Linked DNA regions of Homo sapiens: all the other regions are linked to region 1. Evidence: fine-mapped expression QTL. A gene starts in region 1. Each other region holds a variant in brackets. All regions are shown on one strand. Distances are between the middles of the regions.

The links. PIP is the estimated chance that this variant, and not a neighbour inherited with it, causes the effect.
Region 2: its variant is fine-mapped to the expression of APTR in whole blood (INTERVAL, PIP above 0.99).
Region 3: its variant is fine-mapped to the expression of APTR in tibial artery (GTEx, PIP above 0.99).

The regions. Positions count from the first base shown.
Region 1 is chr7:77,691,988-77,700,170 of GRCh38, forward strand. APTR (Alu-mediated CDKN1A/p21 transcriptional regulator) reads right to left here and starts at 4,278. Exons shown (of 2, transcript NR_134254.1): 1 at 3,909-4,278. It overlaps RSBN1L (round spermatid basic protein 1 like), which reads left to right and starts at 4,472. Exons shown (of 8, transcript NM_198467.3): 1 at 4,472-5,068. The coding sequence starts at 4,483. RefSeq lists enhancers at 81-580, 3,567-4,462, 4,463-5,358, 4,543-4,772 and silencers at 4,293-4,512, 4,983-5,302, 5,593-5,692.
Region 2 is chr7:77,732,742-77,740,924 of GRCh38, forward strand. RSBN1L (round spermatid basic protein 1 like) reads left to right here. Exons shown (of 8, transcript NM_198467.3): 2 at 3,669-3,785. Among named protein-coding and RNA genes, the nearest start is that of RSBN1L, 40 kb to the left of the region's middle. The variant T/A (reference allele first, on the strand shown) is at 3,176.
Region 3 is chr7:77,603,729-77,611,911 of GRCh38, forward strand. It overlaps PTPN12 (protein tyrosine phosphatase non-receptor type 12), which reads left to right. Exons shown (of 18, transcript NM_002835.4): 9 at 3,507-3,573; 10 at 7,037-7,114; 11 at 7,220-7,318. Among named protein-coding and RNA genes, the nearest start is that of PTPN12, 71 kb to the left of the region's middle. The variant C/T (reference allele first, on the strand shown) is at 4,345.

The DNA of each region.
Region 1 (8,183 bases):
AGCTAGGTATGGTGGCAAATGCCTTAGTCCCAGCTACTCGGGAGGCTGAGGTGGGGGGAATGCTTGAGCCCAGGAGGTCAAGGCTGCAGCGAGCTGTGAAGCTGCCACTGCACTGTAGCCTGGGTGATAGAGCTGAGACCTGACCTCAAAAAAAAAAAAAAAAAAAAGAAAAAAGAAAAAAAAAAGGTGGAGAAGCAGGGTGTAGGGTAGGTAGGGTAGTATGCTTTCGGTAGAGCTGTTACAGAGAATGAAATGGAAAAGGAAGCAAGAGATAACCAGTGAGTCAACAACACCAACGACTGAAAAGCAAAAAGGAATGGAGATGAGAAAAGGCACGTCGCGTTCAACAGGTCCAAGGTCCAAGAGTACCTGAAACTTGTCACTCTTCCACTGTTTCTTGGCTCAGGGAATGGTACCACTGCCAAGTTTTGCTGGTTAGAAATATAGAAGGTATTCATGATATCTGCCTCCCTTATGTTCATTATCCAAATCATCACATAGGCAACAGCCAAAGGAAAAAGCACGTCAAGTAGAGAGAATCACATATGCAATGTTTCTATGTTGAAAGACAACATGGTGGGTTCTGGAGATTAAAGACCTGTTAGTTTGAAATAGAAGAAGGGGATAGTTCATGAAAGGTCTTACAGGACACATTAAGGATTTTGTTTTTTGTCCCGAGAGCAATGAAAGCCATTGACTTCAGGTCTGAAGCAAGGCAAGAGAGATGGTCAGATCCAGGTTTTTTCGTTTTCGTTTTTTTTTTTTTTTTGAGACAGAGTCTCATTCTGTCGCCCAGGCTGGAGTGCAGTGGCGTGATCTTGGCTCGCTGCAACCTCCGTCTCCCAGATTCAAGCGATTCTCTACCACAGCCTCCCGAGTAGCTGGACTACAAGGACGTGCCACCATGCCCAGCTAATTTTTGTATTTTTAGTAGAGACAAAGTTTCACCATGTTGGCTAGGCTGGTCTCAAACTCCTGACCTCAGGTGATCTGCCTGCCTCGGCCTCCCAAAGTGCTGGGATTACAGGCATGAGCCACTGTACCCGGCCAAGGTTTTGAAAAGAGCTTTCTAGCTGTAGAATGGAAAACCTATATGAGATTATAAAGAGATTATGCTAAAAGAAATTGGTGATAGTGGTAGAAAACCTCTGCCAGTTAAGTGTTGACAAGAATAATCTAGTTGAAAGGGAATGGCTAATTACACAGCACAGAAAAGAGATAGTTGCGCATGTTTTAATAACAGACAAGTCCTGTCTTTAGATCTGGGTAAGGGGCCTCTGTTTACTTGGCCCTCCTCTTGCTGTAAAGAACAAGGAGCCCATGAGGTCAGGGGCCATGTCTGCCTGGAGCCTGCCCTCCTCTTTTAGACTGGCTAGATCTGAGGGCAGAGTGAGCTGCCGATTGTACATCACCATTTGCGGAGTAGGGGGATGTGGACATACACCTGGACATGTTGGGTGCATGTATGGCCTTTCCGTGTGGCAGGTGAACTTGGGGATGGGAGGAGAATGGGGTCAGTGTGGGGACTCTAAGAACTCTAAATTCAAACATGGACTTCCAGATCATATGAAAGTGGATCTGTCAAGGTAGTAGAATAGAATGTATTTTATATAATAGTTTGTTATCTTGATTTATTTTTTAAATATTTAGACAGATGGTGTGTGGACCTCTATAGCCACACTCTTGCTTAGGCTCTACAAATTAAGTGCCAGGCCTAATAACAGTGCATGAAAGTATAATGTAATGCAAGGAGTAACAAATTCATGCAGGCAAGGGTGTAGTTTAACTGGGCTCTTAAGAAGTCCGATTTTCCAGACCTGTGTGCTAGAGATTAGAGAATGAGTGGTGCAAGTTTCCAGGCACTACATTAATGTATGTTAGAGACACTTTTCTAGATCAGGAGGGCCAACAATTAAAAAATGAATTCAATTGTAATGGTTTCGGTGTGATTTTGAAAAGCTTCTTGAATATGGCATAAGTTGAGTGTGGAAGGGACCTTAGTGATCACGTAATCAAATATGCTAACTCAACAGGTAAGAAAACGGAGGTCCTAACAAGTGAAGCAGCCTGACTAAGGTCACGAAACTAGTGCGTTAGCAGATGATTTCCAGCCTAATCCACTCAGTCCACTCTCCCACCAATGCTAATTTTCTTGAAGACATCTGCTGCCAGTCAATTCCAATTAGAAAGTTTTCATGTTACATATTAAATACTGTTATTACTTTAAAAAATTTGAGGCACATAAAAATAAGTCCATAAACCAATATTAAATTTGACTCCAAAACATTCTTTTTTTTTTTTTTGAGATGGAGTCTTACTCTGTCACCCAGGCTGGAGTGCAGTGGCACGATCTCAGCTCACTGCAACCTCCACCTCCAGGGGTCAAGCGAGTCTTTTGTCTTAGCCTCCCGAGGAGCTGGGACTACAAGCACGCACCACCACGCCTGGCTAATTTTTTTTGTATTTTTAGTAGAGACGGGGTTGCACCATGTCAGTCAGGCTGGTTTCAAACTCCTGACCTCAGGTGATCCACCCATCACCGCCTCCTAAAGTCTTGGGATTACATGCGTGAGCCACCCACCACTCTTGGCCGAAAAAAAAAAAATTCTTAAAAATATTCTTAAAAAAATGAGTAAATAGGCACTGTCGCCCCGGGTGGAGTGCAATGGCACGAACTCAGCTTACTGCAACCTCTGCCTTACAGATTCAAGGGATTCTTCTGCCTCAGCCTCCAGAGTAGCTGGGACTACAGGCGCATGCCACTACGCCCAGCTAATTATGTATTTTTAGTAGAGGCAGGGTTTCACTATGTTGGCCAGGCTGGTCTCGAACTCCTGACATTGTGATCTGCCCGCCTTGGCCTCCCAAAGTGCTGGGATTACAGGTATGAGCCACCGCGCCCGGCCACATTCCTTATCTTTTAAGCTAAAACCCATCTCCCCAAATTGCTTATTTTCGAAGCAAAAATCAAAGCACATGCTTACAAAACATCGAACACGCAGTGTGCTTACTAAACGCTAAAATACAGAAACCTAAAAAAACAATTCTTGCTTTTCAAACATCCATAAATAATCGCCAACGAATTTTTCCTGGCAAGTCTACGTTATAATAATAATAATATTATTATTATTATTATTATTTTTTGAGACGGAGTCTTGCCCTGTCGCCCAAGCTGGAGTGCAGTGGCGCAGTCTCGGCTCACTGCAACCTCCGCCTCCTGGGTTCAAGCGATTCTCCTGCCCCAGCCTCCCCAGTAGCTGGGATTACAGGTGCGCGCTTCCATGCCCAGCTAATTTTTGCATTTTTAGTAGAGACGGGGTTTCACCATGTTGGTCAGGCTGGTCTCGAACTTCTGACCTCGTGATCCGCCCGCCCCGGTCTCCCAAAGTGCTGGGATTACAGGTGTGAGCCACCGCGCCCGGCTATAATAATTATTATAAAATTCAAATCTTAAGGCCGCACATGGTGGCTCACGCCTGTAATCCCAGCACTTTGGGAAGCGGAGGTGGGCCGCTCACCTGAGATCAGGAGTTCGAGTCCAGCCTGGCCAACATGGTGAAACCCCGTCTCTAATAAACACAAAAATTAGCCAAGCATGGTGCCGGACGCCTGTAGTCCCTGTTACTGGGGAGGCTGAGGCAGGAGAATCGCTTGAATCTGGGAGGCGGAGGTTGCGGTGAGCCGAGATCGCGCCACGGCACTCCAGCCTCGACAACAGAGCAAAACTCCGTCCCAATAAATAAATAAATAAATAAAATAAAAATCTTAAGGGTCTAGTCACAACAGTTCAAAAGTCTCCAAAGGGAGACTCTCACCTTCAAGCTTGTAAGTAATACTAAAGTTCTAGATTTGCTGGAAGTTATCTCCTTCAATGGATTACAGCACATGATCTAGCAATAATAACGTACCTTGTCACCACATCGAATGATTTTGAACACTTCCCATCAATCGACTACCGACTAACAAAAAGAAGGACTTGATTCCCGGCAATTTTTTCTCTTCTGAACTGAGCATTCCCGAAATCCAGCTTGCTGAACGCGCAGATGCAGGGTGAGAGGCACCCCAGGAAAAATGGAAGGGAAAGTGGTACAAGTTAAAACAGTCTTCGTGGCCGCAGAGACGATCGCTACCTCGGCCATGGCAGATCTGGGGGTCCGGGGCGGGGGTTCTTCCCTGATACCCACCGGGCACGCGAGTTCACGCCAGCGACAGTGGAAAGCCCTCCCCTCGCAGCGCGCTCCGCCACTAGCCGCACCCCGCCGAGCTCTGACCTCCGAAGAGGGTCCCTGTGGCGATCCCGCCCCTTCGTCTGATGTTTGTGCCTTTGATTGGCTCTTAGGTGGATCCCTCAGCGTGGCTTGCCCAATGGAGCAATGCCGGCTGGTGGCCTGGCCGCTCCGCCCCTTCCCTACCCCTCGCGGAGGGCCCGCCCCCTGCCCCGCGCCGGCTAGCGGAGGAGAGTAAATACAACAGGAGCGCAAAATGGCGGAACCGCCGAGCCCCGTGCACTGTGTCGCTGCCGCGGCCCCCACCGCCACCGTCTCGGAGAAAGAACCGTTTGGCAAGCTGCAACTCTCCTCCCGGGACCCTCCGGGTTCTCTGTCCGCCAAGAAGGTCCGGACTGAGGAGAAGAAGGCACCGCGGAGAGTGAACGGAGAAGGGGGCAGCGGCGGGAACAGCAGGCAGCTGCAGCCGCCGGCAGCACCTTCGCCTCAGAGCTATGGCAGCCCCGCGTCTTGGAGCTTTGCCCCTCTGTCTGCTGCTCCCTCCCCGTCCTCTTCTCGGAGCAGTTTCTCTTTCTCCGCTGGCACGGCCGTTCCCTCCTCAGCCTCCGCTTCCTTGTCTCAGCCGGTGCCGCGCAAACTGCTGGTCCCTCCTACGCTGCTGCACGCTCAGCCTCACCATCTCCTCCTGCCCGCCGCCGCCGCCGCTGCCTCGGCTAACGCCAAGTCGCGCAGACCTAAGGAGAAGCGGGAGAAGGAGAGGAGGAGGCACGGTCTCGGTGGGGCCCGAGAGGCCGGCGGGGCCTCCCGGGAGGAGAACGGGGAGGTGAAGCCGCTGCCCCGAGGTGGGTGCCGTGCGGGGAGGGGGAGGGGAGGGCGCCGTGGGTCCCCGCCGCCCCCTGGCGCCCACGGGGCCCGGGAAGGGGGAGCGCGGCGGCCGCGTGCGCCGGCCTGGAGGGGCTGGGAGGCGTCCGGTTTTCAGCAGAGGATTTTGCAGTTCCCAAGGGGACAGGAAATGGAGCCTGTAATTTCGGTTGCAGAGAGGGGGATGGCCGACACTCTTATTTTCTGTATCGTTTCTTCCTCCCAGTTAGTGCGCTGCAGGATTTGTGAAAATCCATCTTGAGGACTCTCCTAGGTTTGTTTGGCTAGGGAGAGAGATGGAGGGAACGGGATGGGGGAAGGGTTTGGTTTTGTAAAAGATGCTTGATTGATTGTTAGACCACTTAGACGTGGTCGCGGGAATTCGTATTTGTGACACAGCGTTCAACCCCGGATAATCCTGTCAAAAAAGGGGTGTGGAGAGAGCACTGGCGTCAGCTGGAAGCTACCAGAGGCCTGAGCTTTTCATCCCTATTAGGGAAATGAGGTAGCGTGCAGGGCCCGAAGTGCGCTGTTTCGTAAGGTACCCTCCCTGCACCCTACTCTCCGCTGCGTATTCTTAAGTGTTTTGGGTGGTCCTGTTTGAAATACCACCCTTCTGAAAGAATTTTCAGCCATATTCTTTTTTTCCCTGCAGCAAATGATAAAACCAGGAGCTTTGACGATTTTTCGCCAGATCAAGCGGCTGCAGAATGTTTGAGCATTAGAAAAAGGCGAATTCTTAAGGGTTCTTGTCAGACAGGGTCAGTTTTGTTTTTAAATGTAGGCTAGTCGTATAATTTTTCAGGTGTTTCCACCACTTCAGCTACGGATACACAATGATCTGACAATAGTGCAACATACGGACTAGTTGAAAATCAAATCTTTATGTGATCGCAAGCTTAAAGCGCATAATCTTTATTATAAATGTGCACTGCTACACAGTGTTGTCAAATAACTCTTTTTGTTTTTTAGAAAAAGAAATGTCAAGCAGTTTCAGCATTGCTGATCTAACAGTAGCTCAGATCATGAAAAATTCTGTTTGGATTATAATGGTTTGTTTTCACAACTTAAAACATGCTGCATGTGCATGTAGCAATAGTGTCACTTCTTCCTTGATATTTTTTGCCTGTAGCAAAGCTTTAACATCTAAGCATAGCCATCAGGGACTCTGGTGCAATGTAAATATCTTTCAGCTTCTGGGAGTGTTGTTTCTAGGAAAGTGGTTTTGAGGATGGGATTTTGGTACTTTTAGTCAGGAATTCCAGGTGATTAGTATTTTAAAGCTATTTTGTTTTAACAATTTATATGTAAAATTTAGGAGATAAGTGCCTGGAAGTTTGTCCATATGCAGCTTGGTATCATCACTAGTGTTTGTGGTGTGTAAACTGCACATTTGCTGTAAGTTCTCTGAAAGAGGAAGTGAATATGAGTATTACATAGTTGGAGTAATGGAATATTTGAGAAGAAATAAGTAAGCATTCTTTAACAATTCTAACTTAAAATGTGGAGTACACAAATGGTCCTTAAAGTGAAATGGCTGTTAAAGAGGAATTTTTATAGTCTTTTCAATTACATTTAGAATCCTTCTTCTTTTGAGGGTTAACACTAATATTATTAATCCTGAATATAAACAGTGATAGGTTTTACATTAAGATGTGGGAATGATCTTTTCCCATGACCTATGTGGGTTTTTTGGAGTAGTGACAAGATATTAACACTACTGTAAGATTTTCATTTTTTCAGACACAAATGCTATCTTGTTGAGGAAAAACTATCAGAGAAAAAGATTCCTTTCCAGTGTCTTGGTGGTAAATTTAATGGTGAAAATTTTTCCCTCGTAACTTGGGGAATACTTATATCTTTCTAAAGTTTGGATTTAACTGAATTGATGTTCTGTTTTAACGAATTAAGAAGATTCTTAAATAGCGGTATTAACAAGTGGTATAGCAAGAATACATATATGCCTTTATTATAGATATAATTGCAAATATGAAAGTCCTGATTTGCAATACAATGATCATTTCTCTGTGCTTTTTGTAAAAATCTTAGTGAATGGGTGACCAAGTGTTTGTTTAGGTATATACCTCTTTTTAGTGTTGCCCTAAGTTGGCTGTGCATGGTTCAGTAACCCCTCAATTATCCACAGCTGGCTGATTGAACAGTCTGAGTCAGAACCAGACATTAGCTATAAAGACACCTAAACAAGGAAGAGATTCTCCCTCAACAAAACAAAACTGAACCACACACACTCGAAAGACCTAGCCTGCACCCCAATTTGATTAAACAATTAAGCTCCTGTATTTATTAATAGTAGGGCTTTTAAAAAGTCCTAAGTCAGAACTGCTTTATTTTTACATTGGTGACCATTCTAACAGAACGTATTTGGGTTAAATGAAAGCATGTATAAGAAAGGGCCTAGCAGGGTATTTAGTAAATGTTATTTGAGTCTGAAGCATAGTTATTAATTTTTTAACCCTATAACTAATTGAAAGATGGGTGAATGCTGATAGAGGAAGGATCATTGACAGATATGAAAGTTAAGAATGCTGAACAAGAGAATTATGAAAGTATACTAATATGGCCCCATTTAGTACCAGGGCCTGATGCCTCACAATCTCTAAGGCCATCTAATCATAGTACTGTAGCTGACTTGCGTGATAGCTTGACTCACCAAGTAAAAGTTAAATTTCTTATAAGAAGGAAAAGTGCAAAACAGTTTAGATTTTTTTTTTTTTTTTGGAAACAGAGTCTCGCTCTTGTTGGCCAGGTTGGAGTGCAGTGGCGCGATCTCGGCTCGCTGCAACCTCCGCCTCCCGGGTTCAAGCAATTCTCCTGCCTCAGCCTCCCGAGTGGCTGGAATTATAGGCACTCGCCAACACGCCTGGCTAATTTTTGTATTTTTAGTAGAGAGGGGGTTTCACCATGTTGGCCAGGCTGGTCTCAAACTCCTGACCTTGTGATCTGCCTGCCTTGGCCTCCCAAAGTGCTGAGATTACAGGCGTGAGCCACCGTGCCTGGCCAACATTTTAGATTTTTAAAACCAGAAAATAACCTGATTTTAGTGCTTACGGAGGTAATTTACTGGAGAGTTAATCA
Region 2 (8,183 bases), 41 kb after region 1:
ATACCAATATTATAGGTAAATAGATATTATTCTACATTTGGAAGGCTTTTATCTTTACAAACTGCCTCAGTATGTATTTTCTATTTAATCTTTACACAAACTCCATTTTACAGCTGCAACTGGAGATCTGAAAGTTTGTCAGTTATCTAGGTTGTAGAGCATAATCTTGAACCTAGGTCTCCTGAGTTTGTAGGTATCCCACTTTATCATAGCTCTGCCATGTAACATGACTACAGGAAGTTTAATGGAGGCATTTAAGGTTGGATTTTGGGCTGGGCGTGGTGGCTTAGGCCTGCAATCTGAGCATTTTGAGGGGCTGAGGCAGGAGGATTGCTTGAGCCCAGGAGTTCGAGACCAACCTCAGCAACATAGCGAGACCCTGTCTCTATTAAAGAAAAAATAAAGAATAAAAGACTGGATTTTGAAAAAGGATAGGCTCTACCAAAAAGTGGAAAAATTGTAAGAAGGGTGAAAGGTAGGTTGAAAGGCTGAGAGGTGAGAGCAAGACAGATGTGTGGGTTAAGGACAGAAGTGATGTCACAAAAAAATGCCCTTTGTTTATGTATAGATGGGATTATTTGTGTTTGCTGAGGATGTTTTGATATCAGGAGGGGTAACTGCAATTACGTTGTCTATAACTCTCCTGTCTTGGCTTTGCCATTGTTTTTGTTTCTATAGATGTTTTTCACATAATAACTTCATACCTTCAACTGTACTTGAATTATTTAATATCATACCCGAGTGCATATTCTAAGATTCCTTTTCCTGTGTTATGAAATTAATATGTGCCCATTGCAGAAACTTAGAAACTTTCCACCTTAAATAGTGGAATTTTAAATGTTAAATAAATTAAATATATTCAATATGTTAAATATTTAATTAAATAAATAATTTTAAATAATGGCTTTTAATAATTTGGGTTATCTTTCAGTTTGTTTTTGGAATGTATGTATATTTCTAAAGTTTAAAAATAATTGAGTCATAGTGTATGATAGTTTTATTTCCCTAGAAGCTAGTTTAATTTTATTCTGAAAAATATTTATGTTTTGTGATTGTGGTAGGCTTATATAGTGAATATATGCTATTAAAAGTTTATAGTTGTTGGCTGGGTGTGGTGGCTCACGCCTGTAATCCCAGCACTTTGGGATGCCAAGGCGTGCAGATCACTTGAGGTTAGGAGTTCGAGACCAGCCTGGCCAACATGGCGAAACCCCATCTCCACTAAAAATACAAAAATTAGCCGAGTGCGATGGCGTGTGCCTGTAATCCCATTTACTTGGTGGCTGAGGCAGGAGAATTGCTTCAACCCGGGAGGTGGAGGTTGCAGGAAGCTGAGATCGTGCCACTGCACTCCAGCCTGGGCCACAGAGCAAGACTTTGTCTCAAAAAAAGAAAAAAAAGTTTATGGTTATTTTAACCTGTATGATTACAAGTCAGCATCCTGAGTACCTTTAGGGGTGCTATACAAAGACTGGAAGGGAACACAGAAGGATTCTGTGGTGCCGTTTCACAAGTATCTTCATTTTATTACATTAATATTATACTTTAATAAAATTTAATAGTTACTAAAATAATACGTTTAAGTTGATAAGATTAAATTGAATTATTGGAAAAAGAAATGTGGAGACGTTTTAGGTGACTTTTTTTCAGTTGTAATTTTAAGTGATATATAAATAGTTCATTTTGTTAGAAGTTTAGTTACTTAGGAAATATTATATAATGTGTCTAAGCTCCAGCTACTTGGAGTAACATTTTTTTTTTTTCCAAGATGTAATCTCACTCTGCCACCCAGCCTGGAGTGCAGTGGCATGATCTCGGCTCACTGCAACCTCCACCTCCCGGGTTCAAGCGATTCTTCTACCTCAGTCTCCCAAGTAGCTGGGATTACAGGCATGCACCACCACATCCGGCTAATTTTTGTATTTTTAGTATAGATGGGGTTTTGTCACATTGACCAGGCTTGTCTTGAACTCCTGACCTCGGGTGATCCGCCCACTTCGGCTTCCCAAAGTGCTGGGATTATAGACGTGAGCCACCGCGCCCGGCCTGGAGTAACATTTTATAGCTAGACAGCAGCCTATGACAGGATTTCAAGGACTTTAACATCAGAAAGTAAGAGTGGCAAACCAATCAGAAGTGTGGGAACACTGTAATCTAATTCAGAAGTTAAGTTATATGTGAACAGATAAGGAGTTTTATCTCGTTTATTCTCCCCTGTATCCCTAATCTTTTTCTTGTACTCAGACTGTGTATTTGTTGAGTCAGTGAATTCCTGTTTGCTGTACTTTCGTATGCTTGGAGTGTTATCACTTGAAAAAAAAAAACAAAAAACACTTTGTCAGTGTTATAGGTGAAAGTAATGTCTTTTAATTTGTATATTATTAATGATTGAAGTTTAAAAATGTTTATTAGCACATGAATTTAATTTTTTGAAAATTTATTTAAGTAGTCTAGACCTGTGCTATTCAGTATGGTAGACACTAGTTTTATGTGACTATTCAACACTTAAAGTGAAACTAGTTTCAAATTGAGATGTGTCATAAATGTAAAATATATGTTAGATTTTGAAATCTTATGAAAAAATGTAAAATATCTCATCATTTAAAAATATCAGTTCCATGTTGAAATTATAATGTGTTGGATCCATTGGGTTAAGCAAAATATATCATTAAAATTAATAAAATTGTTTACCAATTCAGATTTAGATTACTGTCTAGATCTGGACAGTGCTTATATAGACAGTAATCTAATCACTACATGATTAGGACCTGGGTTATGGTAGTGTTTATAGAAAGGAAAGTAAGGAGTGATTTTTAAGAGATTATGCAGTATGCATGTATACTATATAATCTCTACTATATTCCAGGACATTTCACAGTTCTTGTATACTTCCATCATGGTTTTGTAATCAGTCGTAAGCTTTTTGAGGGCAAAGGTTTATGTCACTATTTGTATATCCTTCTCTGTATTTTGTCTTTTGCTGGGTGCATAGGAAGTCATTTGAACAAAGAAGAATTTAATAGGCTATCAAATATTTTGTTTGAAGTTTTAGAATGCAAATGAATGATCCCTAGAGTTATTATGCCCTTTATTTAAATATCACAGTATCACCAAGTAGTCAGATTGAGTCATACTATTTTTAAAAGGAGCCAAGGGTAAGGGAACCAACATCTAG[T/A]CTTATGTATGCCAGGCTCTATGTAGTCATTTTATATATTTTTTCATTTAGTCCTTATAGTAACCATAATGAGGAAGGTATCAATTACCATTTACAGATTAGGAAACTGAGATCAAGTAATTTTTCTGTTATGCTGCTAATCCATAGATGCTCAATTTCAACACTGGCACTTTTCCATCGTAGCTTTTGCTTCACCTAAAGTTAGTTATTTTAAGTGATTTGAAATAAATTTAATATTTTGGTTGACACGAAGTGAAGAATACTTAGAATAAAATGTATAATGATACATTTTGACAATATGTATTTCATATTCAATAAAAAGGGAAATTTAGAAATATTCCCCAAAACCTGAGAGGAAAAAGAAAAGGCATTATTTGTTCCTCATTCTGATTTTCTTTGTGTATTGTAATTCCAGAAATTTACCTATAGTTTGTGCAGATAAATGAAGTTGTAATTTTTTCATTTTAAATATTTCCTTTGTTTTGTCTTCCAGATAAAATCAAAGACAAAATTAAAGAGAGAGACAAAGAAAAAGAAAGAGAAAAAAAGAAACATAAAGTAATGAATGAGATCAAGAAAGAGAATGGAGAAGTAAAGATTTTGCTGAAAAGTAAGTTTTATTCAGTGATTTTAGTTCTACTTTATTATACTGTTCAGTATCTTTATTGGCTAAGTGAATAAAATAAGAAATGTTATTTGGTGCTGAATTTTGCGGAGAATGAACAATGATGAGGAAATGAAAAGTAAATGTAACAACGGAGAGTTCTAATCTGTATGGTAACATGTCTTATAGTATATTTAGTGAGCCATTAAAAAGTTAAAAGGTTAAGCTTCGTTAAACTTAATTTCTTAAATTATTTTAAAATAAGTTAATTCTATGTTTGCATTACTAGTCTTACTCATATTTAGATAATCTAAAAGGAAGAAATTAAGAAAAATTGCCAAAGCAAGTTTTAGTATGATAGGGATGGTGAAGTAAGTGATCTTCTTAAAAATATTTGACTGTCATCACCATACCATAGTCTAGCATTTAGAGGGAACATTTTACTCTGAGCTAAATCAGAAGCGGTATGTTTCTTGTATGTTTAAGAATATCCTTGTTTTATTCTTTTTTTTCTCTGTTACAGTTGCATTCATTTGCTGTTTATATATGAGGGTGGGGTGGAGAGAAGAATTTGGGGGGTAGGTGGTTGGGTAATAAGTATACTGCAAATCCTGTCAATAAGTCTGAACTTGTAAAGAGAGAATTTGTGGTAGAATAGACGTAAGGATAGTCTTAAATTCACTCAGATGTCAAGGTAAGAAGAATCCGTGGCATTCGGTTGCTAGACAACTAGCGAATTCACTAGCTAGCAAATTTACTAGTGCTATCATGTTGATAGTTGATGATGAGAATATGTTGACCTTGATTAACTTCATATTGAATTTAATTGTTGATAAGGCTTTATATTTGCTTGAGGGGGAAAGACCACGACACTGCATATGTAGCAAAATAACTGGTAGTTTATATTATCTAAGATAAAGAGTATTAGATTCTGTATTTTCATTGCATTCTTTGTCATGTTTTCAGATATTCGTTTTCTATTATCTACATGTCAGAACTTCATTTTCTACGATATTCTTTCAACCTTGAAGAAATACGTCAGAGCTTAAGTTGATGGCTGCTTATTAGTTAATGCTCATGATCCTTTTGTTCTGTTTCTTTTGCCTGCATATTCTATCTGTGTTGTCTAATTAGATTGTAAGCCTTTGAGGCAGGAATTGAATATAACCACACTAGTTATTTATAGCAGCTAGTGATGAATGCTTGAAAAGTCTGCTTAAGGCCAGGTTCGGTCGCTCATGCCTGTAATCCCAGCAATTTGGGAGGCCGAGGCGGGTGGATCACTTGAGGTCAGGAGTTTGAGACCAGCCTGGCCGATGTGGTGAAACCTCGTCTCTACTAAAAATGAAAAATTAGTGGGGCATGATGGTGGACATCTGTAATCCCAGCTACTGGGGAGGCTGAGGCATGAGAATTGCCTGAACCCGGGAGACAAGAGGTTGCAGTGAGCTGAGATCACCCCACTGTACTCCAGCCTGGGCAATAGAGTGAGATTCAGTCTCAAAAAAAAAAAAAGAAAAGAAAAAGTCAAGTCTACTTAACTTTACCCTTGGTTTAGCCCAATAGCCATTTTTTTTTCTGATTTAATCAAATAGTTTTCTTATTCATTTGAAAATATCATGCTGTAAATTCTATTACTTGAGAAGGAATCTGTTTTAGAAATACTTTATAAAAGCCTCATATGTTCTTGATTGAATACTGGATTCCTAACATAATGTGAATTATGTGAATCCAGAGATTACACATGAAAATAAAATTTAAAACAGCCTAAAAATTGAGATTTTTAAAAAATGAAATATACGATATTAACTTTGAAGTAGACAAAAATTTAGGTGATATTTTGAACCGAGTTAAACTGAAACTAGTGATGATTAAGGTAAAAGAATGAGATAGATGTGGAAATTAATTTGTGACTTCTGGGATGTCCATGGAAAAATTTAGGGAAAATGTATTCACAGTGGAGGTAAGTAATAATTTAATTACTGCCTTACAGTGTTACCAAGATTAAATGAGGGAAAGTATGAGGAAAGTGCCAAGTATAGAATCTGGCTCACAGGTACTTACTACTGAGTAGTAAATAGTTATGAAATCTTTCTTGTAAGTATGTATGAGAGATTAACTTTGTGATTAAAAAGCAACAAAATTGGCCAGGCACAGTGGCTGAAGCCTGTAATCCCAGCATTTTGGGAGGCCGAGGCAGGTGGATCACCTGAGGTCAAGAGTTCAAGACCAGCCTGGCCAAGTTGGTGAAACCCCATCTCTACTAAAAAATACAAAAAATTACGGTGGGTGCCTGTAATCCCAGCAACTCGGGAGGCTGAGGCATGTGAATCGCTTGAACCCAGGAGGCGGAGGTTGCGGTGAGCCAAGATGGTGCCACTGCACTCCAGCCTGGGCAACAGAGAGAGACTCCATCTCAAAAAAACAAAAAACAAAAAACACCAATAAAACCAAACTATCTCCTCTCCTCAGTGTGTAGTACATAGATAATTAAGTGAATAAACACATGATTCATTGGGAAAACAGTGCTTGTCGCATTGAAAGCACTGAGTGTTATCTGTTGTTACTATCTACGAGAAAGAATTTGCTTAGTATGTGGGGCCATTTCCCAAGTGAGCCTGTGGTGGTGGTAGGGAAAGGCATCTTTTGTTGTTGGTGACTTGGAACAACAAATCATTTACTTTGCTGAGGGAAAATATACTTTCATTTACTACTGTGTGCCACTTTTTTCCTTGTGGCCTCCAACTTTTATTCTATCCTTGTAATTTTTTTCTTCTGTTAATGATAATGTTGCAAGCTGTGGTATACACAGGTGTTGATGGATGATGGCATTTGAAAATCTAAAATAGATGTCAAGTATGTCACACCAATTCATTTTCTCCAGGTTTTTCTTAAAAATTGTGTCAGGTAGGCTGGGCGCAGTGTCTCACGCCTGTAATCCCAGCACTTTGGGAGGCCAAGGCGGGTGGGCCACTTGAAGCTAGGAGTTTGAGACCAGCTTGGCCAACCTGGTGAAACCCCATCTCTACTAAAAATAGAAAAATTAGCCGGGCGTGGTGGCGCTCGTCTGTAATCCCAGCTACTCGTGAGGCTGAGGCAGGAGAATTGCTTGAACCCAGGAGGCAAAGGCTGCAGCCGAGATTGTGCCACTGCACTCCAGCCTGGGTGACAGAGCAAGACTTGGTCTCAGGAAAAAAAAAAAAAAAAAAAAAATGTGTCTTTTTTTTTTTTTTTTTTTTTTTTTTTTTGAGAGGAGTCTTGCTCTGTCATCCAGGCTGGAGTGCAGTGGCGCGATCTCGGCTCACTGCAAACTCTGCCTCCTGGGTTCAAGCAGTTTTCCTGCCCCAGCCTCCTGAGTAGCTGGGATTACAGCCGCACGCCGCCATGCCTAGGGCTAATTTTTTGTATTTTAGTAGAGACAGGGTTTCACCATGTTGCCCAGGCTGATGGCGAACTCCTGAGGTCAGGCAGCCTGCCTGACCCGGCCTCCCAAAGTGCTGGGATTATAGGCATGAGCCACTGCGTCCGGCCTGTCAAGTTTTTTCTGACTGGAAATACACACAAAATTATATATATGATAAAAAGTGTTTTATTAATGCGAAAACCTTATAAAAGTTTATTTGGTAAGAAAGTTGGATTATTTGCTCTTTTCAAAATAGTTTAAAGGAACAAATAAGTTTGAAACAAAGCTTATTTAGTGGGTCTTATTTTATACTAAAGTTCACCAACTGCTTTTTCTGATTGTATGCATTATGTTCCAGGCATTTTTATGTTGTTTATTAATGATAAAGTGTGAGAACATGTGTTATGATTATAGTATTTTTTAGAGTAAATGTTTGTCATTATAGCATTTTAAATAAGTTTGCTGGTGAGCAGTTAGAATGAGGGTTGAAAGAAGCCAGTGTCCAAGGTGACTGGTAGTGTACTAAAGGTCACAGGTAGGTAAATCATGGCTGGAAGAGTGACAACATTGCAGTGCAAAAAAAGCAGATTCGAATCCCAGAGGCCAAAAGTTGAGAATAACTAAGCTAATTAGTACTTTTTTCCTATATGTAATAATGGGATGGGGGAGAGAGAAAGATAGATATAAATTTTATAAATTTTTCTGAATTTTGTTTTTCACTTTATTAATACAGAAAGTATACGAAAATTAGTGGTAGAATTAACTCAATGAATTTGTGATCTTAAAAGTTTTTTTTTATTTTTCTTTTCATAATTAGCCATTAACAACACATGCTGTCTTTGTTTCTGTGTGCGCTTCTTTCTGCCTCTGTGAGTGTCTCTCTCTGGCTCTAAGTATACCTGCATCTCTGTTTCTGATTCCCTCACTCCCAGTCTGGCACACTCTCTCTGGCTCTGACTCTATACACGTGTGTATCTGTGGTACTTTGTGTGTGTGGTCTG
Region 3 (8,183 bases), 88 kb before region 1:
GTTGGTCAAGGACATAAACTTTTAAAGTATTTTAATGAGTATTTTTTAATGTGTTATCCAGAAAATTGATGCTACTTAATTCTGCCACTGGCAGTATGTGAGAGTACCTATTTCCCTATACCTTCCCCAATACTGTGTGTTATCTTTTTGTTTGCTTTTTTTTTTTTTTTTTTTTTTTGAGACAGAGTCTTGCACTGTCGCCCGGGCTGGAGTGCAATGGCACGATCTCAGCTCACTGCAACCTCTGCCTCCTGGGTTCATGCGATTCTCCTGCCTCAGCCTCCCGAGTACTGGGATTACAGGCACACACCACTACACCCAGCTAATTTTGGGTATTTTTTAGTAGAGACGGGGTTTCACTATGTTGGCCAGACTGGTCTTGAACTCCTGACCTCATGATCTGCCCGCCTCCACCTCCCAAAGTGCTGGGATTACAGGTGTGAGCCACGGTTCCCAGCCTTTGTTTGCATTTTTTTCTTCCTTTTTTTTTTTTTTTTTTTTTTTTGAGACGGAGTCTTGGGCTGTCGCCTGGGCTGGAGTGCAATGGTGCGATCTTGGCTTGCTGCAACCTCTGCCTCCTGGGTTCAAGTGATTCTCCTGCCTCAGCCTCCCGAGTAGCTGGGATTATAGGCATGCACCACCACACCCGGTTAATTTTATATTTTTAGTAGAGTTGGGGATTCTCCATGTTTGTCAGGCTGGTCTTGAACTCCTGACCTCAGGTGATCACCTGCCTCGGCCTCCCAAAGTGCTGGGATTACAGGCGTGAACCACTGCGCCCAGCCTCATCTTTTAATAGTTATACAAGTGCTTTATATATTGAGGACATTAACTTTTATTCATGTTGTAAGTACCATGGTTTTTCCTGTCTTCTGCCTGTTTGCAATACATAAGTTTCATTTTGTCATGTCAGATTTTTGAATGGTTTTTGTCCATTGAGATATTTGTACATAGAAAGTCTTTCCCTAACACAATAGTGTATATATTTTGCATATATTTTTAGTACTTTCATAGATTTACTTTTTAACATTTATCATTGGATAAATATCCAATATGTTTATATCATATATATATATATATTTTTATCCACCTGGATTTTTTATGGTTAAGGTATGTGATCAGAATTTAATTTTTTGCTCTTCATTGATAGCTAACTTCTCCTTTGCCACTTACTGAACGGTCTGATCTCTGGAGAATTCACTGTTATGTAAGAAATGTTACATGTACTCAGATCTGTTCCTGAACTTTCTATTGTGTTTCATTGATCTGGTTATCTGTATCTTTATGTTATACTTTTAACTATCAAATTTTAGATATATATAATTTATCCCAGTAACTCAACTAAAATTCTATAAATGTTTTGATGCACAGAATTCACAAATGTATCAACTAAAAATTAATATAATTGATTATGTTTATTAAGAGTTTTAAAAAATCTTTCTAGGTTGTTTATAGTGTACTTTTATCAGGAATTTTAGGTTACATGTTTAACAAACTGCTGATAGGTATACATTTCAAAATATGCATTAAAATGTTACACAACTTTGTGGGGGTTTTTGCCAAAGATTATTCTGGTGATGTCAGTAACATCTTATAATTACTCATAGTGATTTTCAATTCTAAGATGCATAAGCCTTTCTCTAGTTGAGAAGCAGTTACTTTAAAATACTTTTGTCATGAGTTTTTTTTTTTTTTTTTTTTTTTTTTTTGAGACGGAGTCTCGCTCTGTCGCCCAAGCTGGAGTGCAATGGCGTGATCTCAGCTCACTGCAACCTCCGCCTCCCAGGTTCAAGTGATTCTCCTGCCTCAGCCTCCCAAGTAGCTGGGATTACAGGCGCCCACTACCACGCCCGGCTAATTTTTTTTTTTTGTATTTGCAGTAGAGACGGGGTTTCACCACGTTGGCCAGGCTTGTCTCCTGACCTCAGGTGATCCGCCCTCCTTGGCCTCCCATTGTGTTGGGATTACAGGCGTGAGCCACTGAGCCCAGCCTGTCATGTTTTAAAATAAAAAAACCTATGGTATGTTACTCTAAAGTCCCCAGCTCCCATTAGTTTTTTGGGATATGAGAGCATATCATTGTCTTGTTCTTTTGTGGAAATCACTGCTGTTGCTCAATCCGTTTTCTAGGGCTTATAGCATTCTTCACCTTTCCTATACCTTCTATAGATTGAAATGATGTACCATTTCCTCCTGTACTCTAAAACAAGAGCCATCTTTTTTTTTTTTTTTTTTTTTTTTTTGAGTTGGAGTTTTACTCTTGCTGCCCAAGCTGGAGTGCAATGGCACGATCTTGGGTCACTGCAACCTCCACTTCCCCGGTTCAAGTGATTCTCCTGCCTCAGCCTCCTGAATAGCTGGGATTGCGTGTGTCTGCCAGCACGCCCAGCTAATTATGTGTTTTCAGTAGAGATGGGGTTTCACCGTGTTGGCCAGGGTGGTCTCAAACTCCTGACCTCAAGTGATCCACCGGCCTCAGGCTCCCAAAGTGCTGAGATTACAGGCATGAGCCCCTGCGCCCAGCCACAAGAGCCATCTTGAACATAGAATAAATGTCTCTGTAAGACGTTGTTAGCTAGTCACATTTTCTGATGTAGCATTAGACTTCCAGAGTGACAACTTAGTAGCTATTCTCTGTGTCACTTACTCTTGGAAGTTCCTTAAATTAATTTTTGTTTTTCTTTTTGAGATGAAGTCACACTCTGTTACCCAGGCTGGAATGCATTGGTGCCATCATGGCTTACTGCAGCCTCGACCTCCCAGGCTCAAGCAATCCTTCTGCCTTGGCCTCCCAAAGTGCTGGGACAACAGGCATGAGCCACTGCGCCCAACCCCTTAAAAATGAAATGTTTAAAAGATAGAAGACAATAGGCCTTCCTTATTCAAGACTTCACTGTCCTCAGTTTCAGTTACTCATAGTTCAAAAATATCAAATGGAAAATTTCAGAAGTAAACACTTTGTAAGTTTTAAATGCTGCACCATTCTGAGAAGCATGGGGAAGTATGTCCTGCTTGCAAGATAAATCATCCCATGGTCCAGTGTGTACACACTGTAGACTCTACCAGCCCATTAGTCACATAGTAGATACTGCAGTTACCAGATGGACTGTCATGGTGTCCCAGTGGTTATGTTCACATGACCCTTATTTTACTTATAATGGCCCAAACCTCAACAGTAGTGAGGTAGTGACTAGTGATAGATTGTTATAATTGTTCTAATGTATTATTAGTTATTGTTGTTAATCTCTTGTTGTGCCTGATTTATAAATTAAACTTTATCATAGGTATGTACATATAGGAAAAATCATAGTGTATATGTATATGTATTCTGTGTAACAGATGTTGCCATGAACACACTGTAAGTTGTATTTTGTTTATTACTAAGTAGAATTTTGTCAAACTTCTTAAATGATTTTTTGTTTCTGAATATTAACATGTCTATCCACATTTATTTTATAGTTGTTTTATCACAAAAATCAATTGTTTTTCAAACTTTATATCCTTAGTGCAGGCTGTGGAAGAACAGGTGCCATTTGTGCCATAGATTATACGTGGAATTTACTAAAAGCTGGGGTAAGAATAATTTTTTGTAGCATTATGTTCAATTGATCTATTATGATTTTCAAACTTAATTATAATTGCAGTAAATTATAGTGTATATTTTATTATACATGTTATTTTTTCCAAAGTAGTTTTATTAAGTAAGAAATAAAGGTAGTGAAGGCCGGGCACAGTGGCTTACGCCTGTAATCCTAGCACTTTGGGAGGCCAAGGTGGGAGGATCGCTTGAGCCCTGGGGCTCGAGACCAGCCTGGGGAACATAGGGAGACCCCCGTCTCTAAAAATAATTAAAAAATAAAATGATTATAAAAAATAAAGGTGGAGAAAAGGTATAATTGCTGCATATTGCCTTTGATAGGATGCATTGGGGAACAATGTGACAGTGTTCTAGGTGAGTGAATACTTGCATTAGGATATAAACTGTTACTGACTTTTCCAATACTAAATTTTCATTGCCTTTTTTTTTTTTTCTTTTTTTTCCGAGATAGAGTTTCACTCTTGTTGCCCAGGCTGGAGTGCGATGGTGCGATCTCAGCTCACTGCAACCTCCACCTCCTGGGTTGAAGCCATTCTCCTGCTTCAGCCTCCCTAGCAGCTGGGATTACAGGTGCCTGCCATCACGCCCAGCTAATGTTTTATATTTTTGGTACAGACAGGGTTTCACCATGTTGGCCAGGCTGGTCTCGAACTTCTGACCTCAGGTGATCCACTCATCTCGGCCTTCCAAAGTGCCGGGATTGTAGGCGTGAGCTACGGTGCCTGGCCCATTGCCTTTTATGTTTA[C/T]TCTAGGTATAAGTGTATTTCACTCAGTATGTATTTATGCCTGCTGGAGACATTATAGTATTGTAGTCTATGAATGCTGACTCGAGCCAAATTGCCCAGATTATAATTCTGGCTTTCTCATTTACTAGCTGTGGGATCTTGGTCAAAATACTAATCCCATAGTGCCTCTATTTCTTTATCAGAAAATAGGGGTCATAGTAGTAGTAATGCATAAGAATTAAATAACTTTTGTGAAGTTCTTCAGAACTATGTGGTAAATTGTAAGTACTCAGTTTATTGTTAGTGTTGATTACTGTTGCTGTTGTGATTGTTGTTCCTACTACTGCTTTTTCCAAGAAATAGTGTTTGATACTGTGGATGATACAGAGATAAATAAGATACAGCCTTCATTATAGATTTGAAAAACAAGTCTCTTCATTATGTATACATTTGATTCTTTTGCTGGTTCCATAATGTGTTCATTTCTAGAGAGGCGCCTTTAATCCTTCATAGCTTTATAGTTTCCATGAATTGTTCATCTTTGTCTTGTACAGAGTAGAATTAATAAAATGTTTATTTTTTCTTTTTCTTCCTTCTTCCCCTTATTTCTCTTTTTTCCCTGCCATCTCTCCATTTTTTATTGTTGCAAGGAAATATTTACATGTTAAACAGTTCCTTAAAAAGCCCTCTGGGGTTAAATATTTTTTTCCTCAAAAACTATAATCATCTAATTCTCAAATGAAAATGCTTAAGTGAACAAAATTTAACTGGAATTCGATCACATTTTAACATAAAAGTCAAAGATTAAAATTGGAATGAGAAGGGACACATAAATGAATGCTAGCAAACAAAACAAACATTTGGTCATTTTAAAAGTTGTGTATTTTGGATAGGTGCCATGGCTTATGCCATAATTCCAGCACTTTTGAAGGCTGAGGTGGGCGGATCACCTGAGGTCAGGAGTTTGAGACCAACCTGGCCAACATGGTGAAACCCCATTTCTACTAAAAATACAAAAATTAGCCAGGCGTGGTGGCCGGCGCCTGTAATCCCAGTTACTTGTCAGGCTGAGGCAGGAGAATTGCTTGAACCTGGAAGGCAGAGGTTGCAGTGAGCCGAGATTGTGCCATTGCACTGCAAACTGGGTGACAGAGCAAGACTCCGTCTCAAAAAATAAAATAAAATAAAAGTTGTGTATTTTGAACATAGTTCTCTCTCTCTCTTTTTTTTTTTTTTTTGAGATGGAGTCTCACTCTGTTGCCTAGGCTGGAGGGCAGTGGTGTAATCTCGGCTCACTGCAACCTCTGACTCTCAGGTTCAAGCGATTCTCCTGCCTTAGTCTCCCGAGTAGCTGGGATTACATGCACGCGGCACCATGCCTGGCTAATTTTTGTATTTTTAGTAGAGATGGGGTTTCACCGTGTTTCGGGCTGGTCTCAAACTCCTGACCTCAGGTGATCCGCCTGCCTTGGCCTCTCAAAGTGCTGGGATTACAGACATGAGCCACTGCACCCGGCCTAGTTGTTAAGTCTTCATGTAAAAATCTTGGCTGGGCGCGGTGGCTCACGCCTGTAATCCCAGCACTTCGGGAAGCCGAGGCGGGCGGATCACGAGGTCAGCAGATTGAGACCACCCTGGCTAACACGGTGAAACCCTGTCTCTACTAAAAATATAAAAAAAATCGCCAGGCGTAGTGGCGGGGGCCTGTAGTCCCAGCTACTCCGGAGGCTGAGGCAGGAGAATGGCGTGAACCCGGGAGGCGGAGCTTGCAGTGAGCGGATATCACGCCACCGTACTCCAGCCTGGGCGACAGAGCGAGACTCCGTCTCAAAAAAAAAACAACAAAAAAAAAACCCAAAAATCTTATGATGTATATAAGGACTTCCAAGCAGCAAACCTGGAAATCATTTTTAACCCTTCCATCTTAATCACTCCAAAATATTCTTGTTGATAACAGTTATGATATTTCTGCTTCTGTAAACCTCCGCCAGTTTCTCACTCTTTCAGACTGTCCTCTTCCTTGATACAAAAATTGTGTGAATATCAGATCTTCTCATGTCAACATTGCCTATTGCAGTAGTCGCAATTCCATATACACAAAAGAATTGTCTAGGTCGTTTCATAATTAGTTCCCCAACTTGGAGCCAAAGGATCTATATTTTTACCTAGGTCTTTTAGCTGGTCCTTATATAGCCAATCCAGGAGATACTGGCCAATAGAATAAATTCAGTCTCTTTATTATGTTCACAGTCTGATCCTAAATATCCTTATCTTCTCTCCTCCTTTGAGTACCTTCTCCTTCTTTTAGTCTTAGGCTTTGTTTACATCAAACTTCTCAATTCCCCACATAGATTATACATTGAATCTGCTGTGCTTATGTATATTTCCTTCACTTTTTATGGGATAACCTTCTTTTGATATCCAACTATGTTGTAGCTGCACACACTCAACAGTTAGCCATAGCCTCTTTATTCCCTGTATACTGCAGTCATACTTTGGCTGGACATAACTGTCTCCCCATCTTGAATGCTGAGGGTCAAGAACAGTTTTGTTTCCACAGTGCCAAGCACAGTGTCTGAGATGCATTAAGTGGTGTTCAATAAATGTTTGCAGTAAACCAGCAGGTATTTAAGTTTTATGTGAAAAGCTGAAGAAGATTTTACTATTTTCTGAATAGATACACAAAGTTGATGTATTAAATTTTCTGTTTTAGAAAATACCAGAGGAATTTAATGTATTTAATTTAATACAAGAAATGAGAACACAAAGGCATTCTGCAGTACAAACAAAGGTATAGTTGTTTGTTTCCCTTTATAAACTGCTATTTTATAAATGCTTTCTTCTTTTTTAAAATGTTGTTTTCATTTTGTTTTTTAATCATTTTTCTCCTTCATAGGAGCAATATGAACTTGTTCATAGAGCTATTGCCCAACTGTTTGAAAAACAGCTACAACTATATGAAATTCATGGAGCTCAGAAAATTGCTGATGGAGTGGTAGGTGTTCTTGGTCTATTAATTTTAGGAAACTTTTACTCTTTGTTAAGATGTAATATTTAGCCTTTTTTTTGTTGTCTTGTGTTTTGTCTAACATGAGAAGAATATCCAGGACACTTAACATTTTTACTTAAACTCATTTCCTTCTTATTCGTATCTGTATTATGATGGCTATTTAATGACTCCGATATAAGGTAAATTATGTTCTAAATGAAATAAAGTTAGGAAAGATCTCATGTCAAAAATCATATAATTCGTTAATGTTTTACTTTTTTAAAAAATAATTGCATTGTTCTCTTTACTCTTCCCTTCCACCCCCACCCAAGTAATTCTGCATTGATTCTACTTGAATTTCATTTTGTATAAAGTGTTTTAGTTATTTGTGTATATGCTTTTCTTTTCTTTTCTTTTTTTTGAGACAGAGTTTCACTCTTGTTGCCCAGGCTGGAGTGCAATGGCACAGTCTCAGCTCACTGCAACCTCTACCTCCCAAGTTCAAGTGATTTTCCTGCCTCAGCCTCCTGAGTAGCTGGGATTACAGGCGCACGCCACTGTGCCCAGCTAGTTTTTGTATTTTTAGTAGAGACGGAGTTTCGCCATGTTGACCAGGCTGGTCTCGAACTCCTGACCTCAGGTGGTCTGCCCGCCTTGGCCTCCCAGTGTGCAATGTGCTGGGATTACAGGCATGAGCCAACACTCCTGGCCTTGTGTATATGCTTTTCAGTTAAGCAGAATTAAAGAGCCACAGTTAACTCCCTTTTGTTGTGTTATAATTCAGTGTTATTTTAGCCTTGTAACATCTTACTGGATATTCAACTTCTAGACCTGACAAAAACACTGTATTCTCTTAGTATTCTCATTTCTG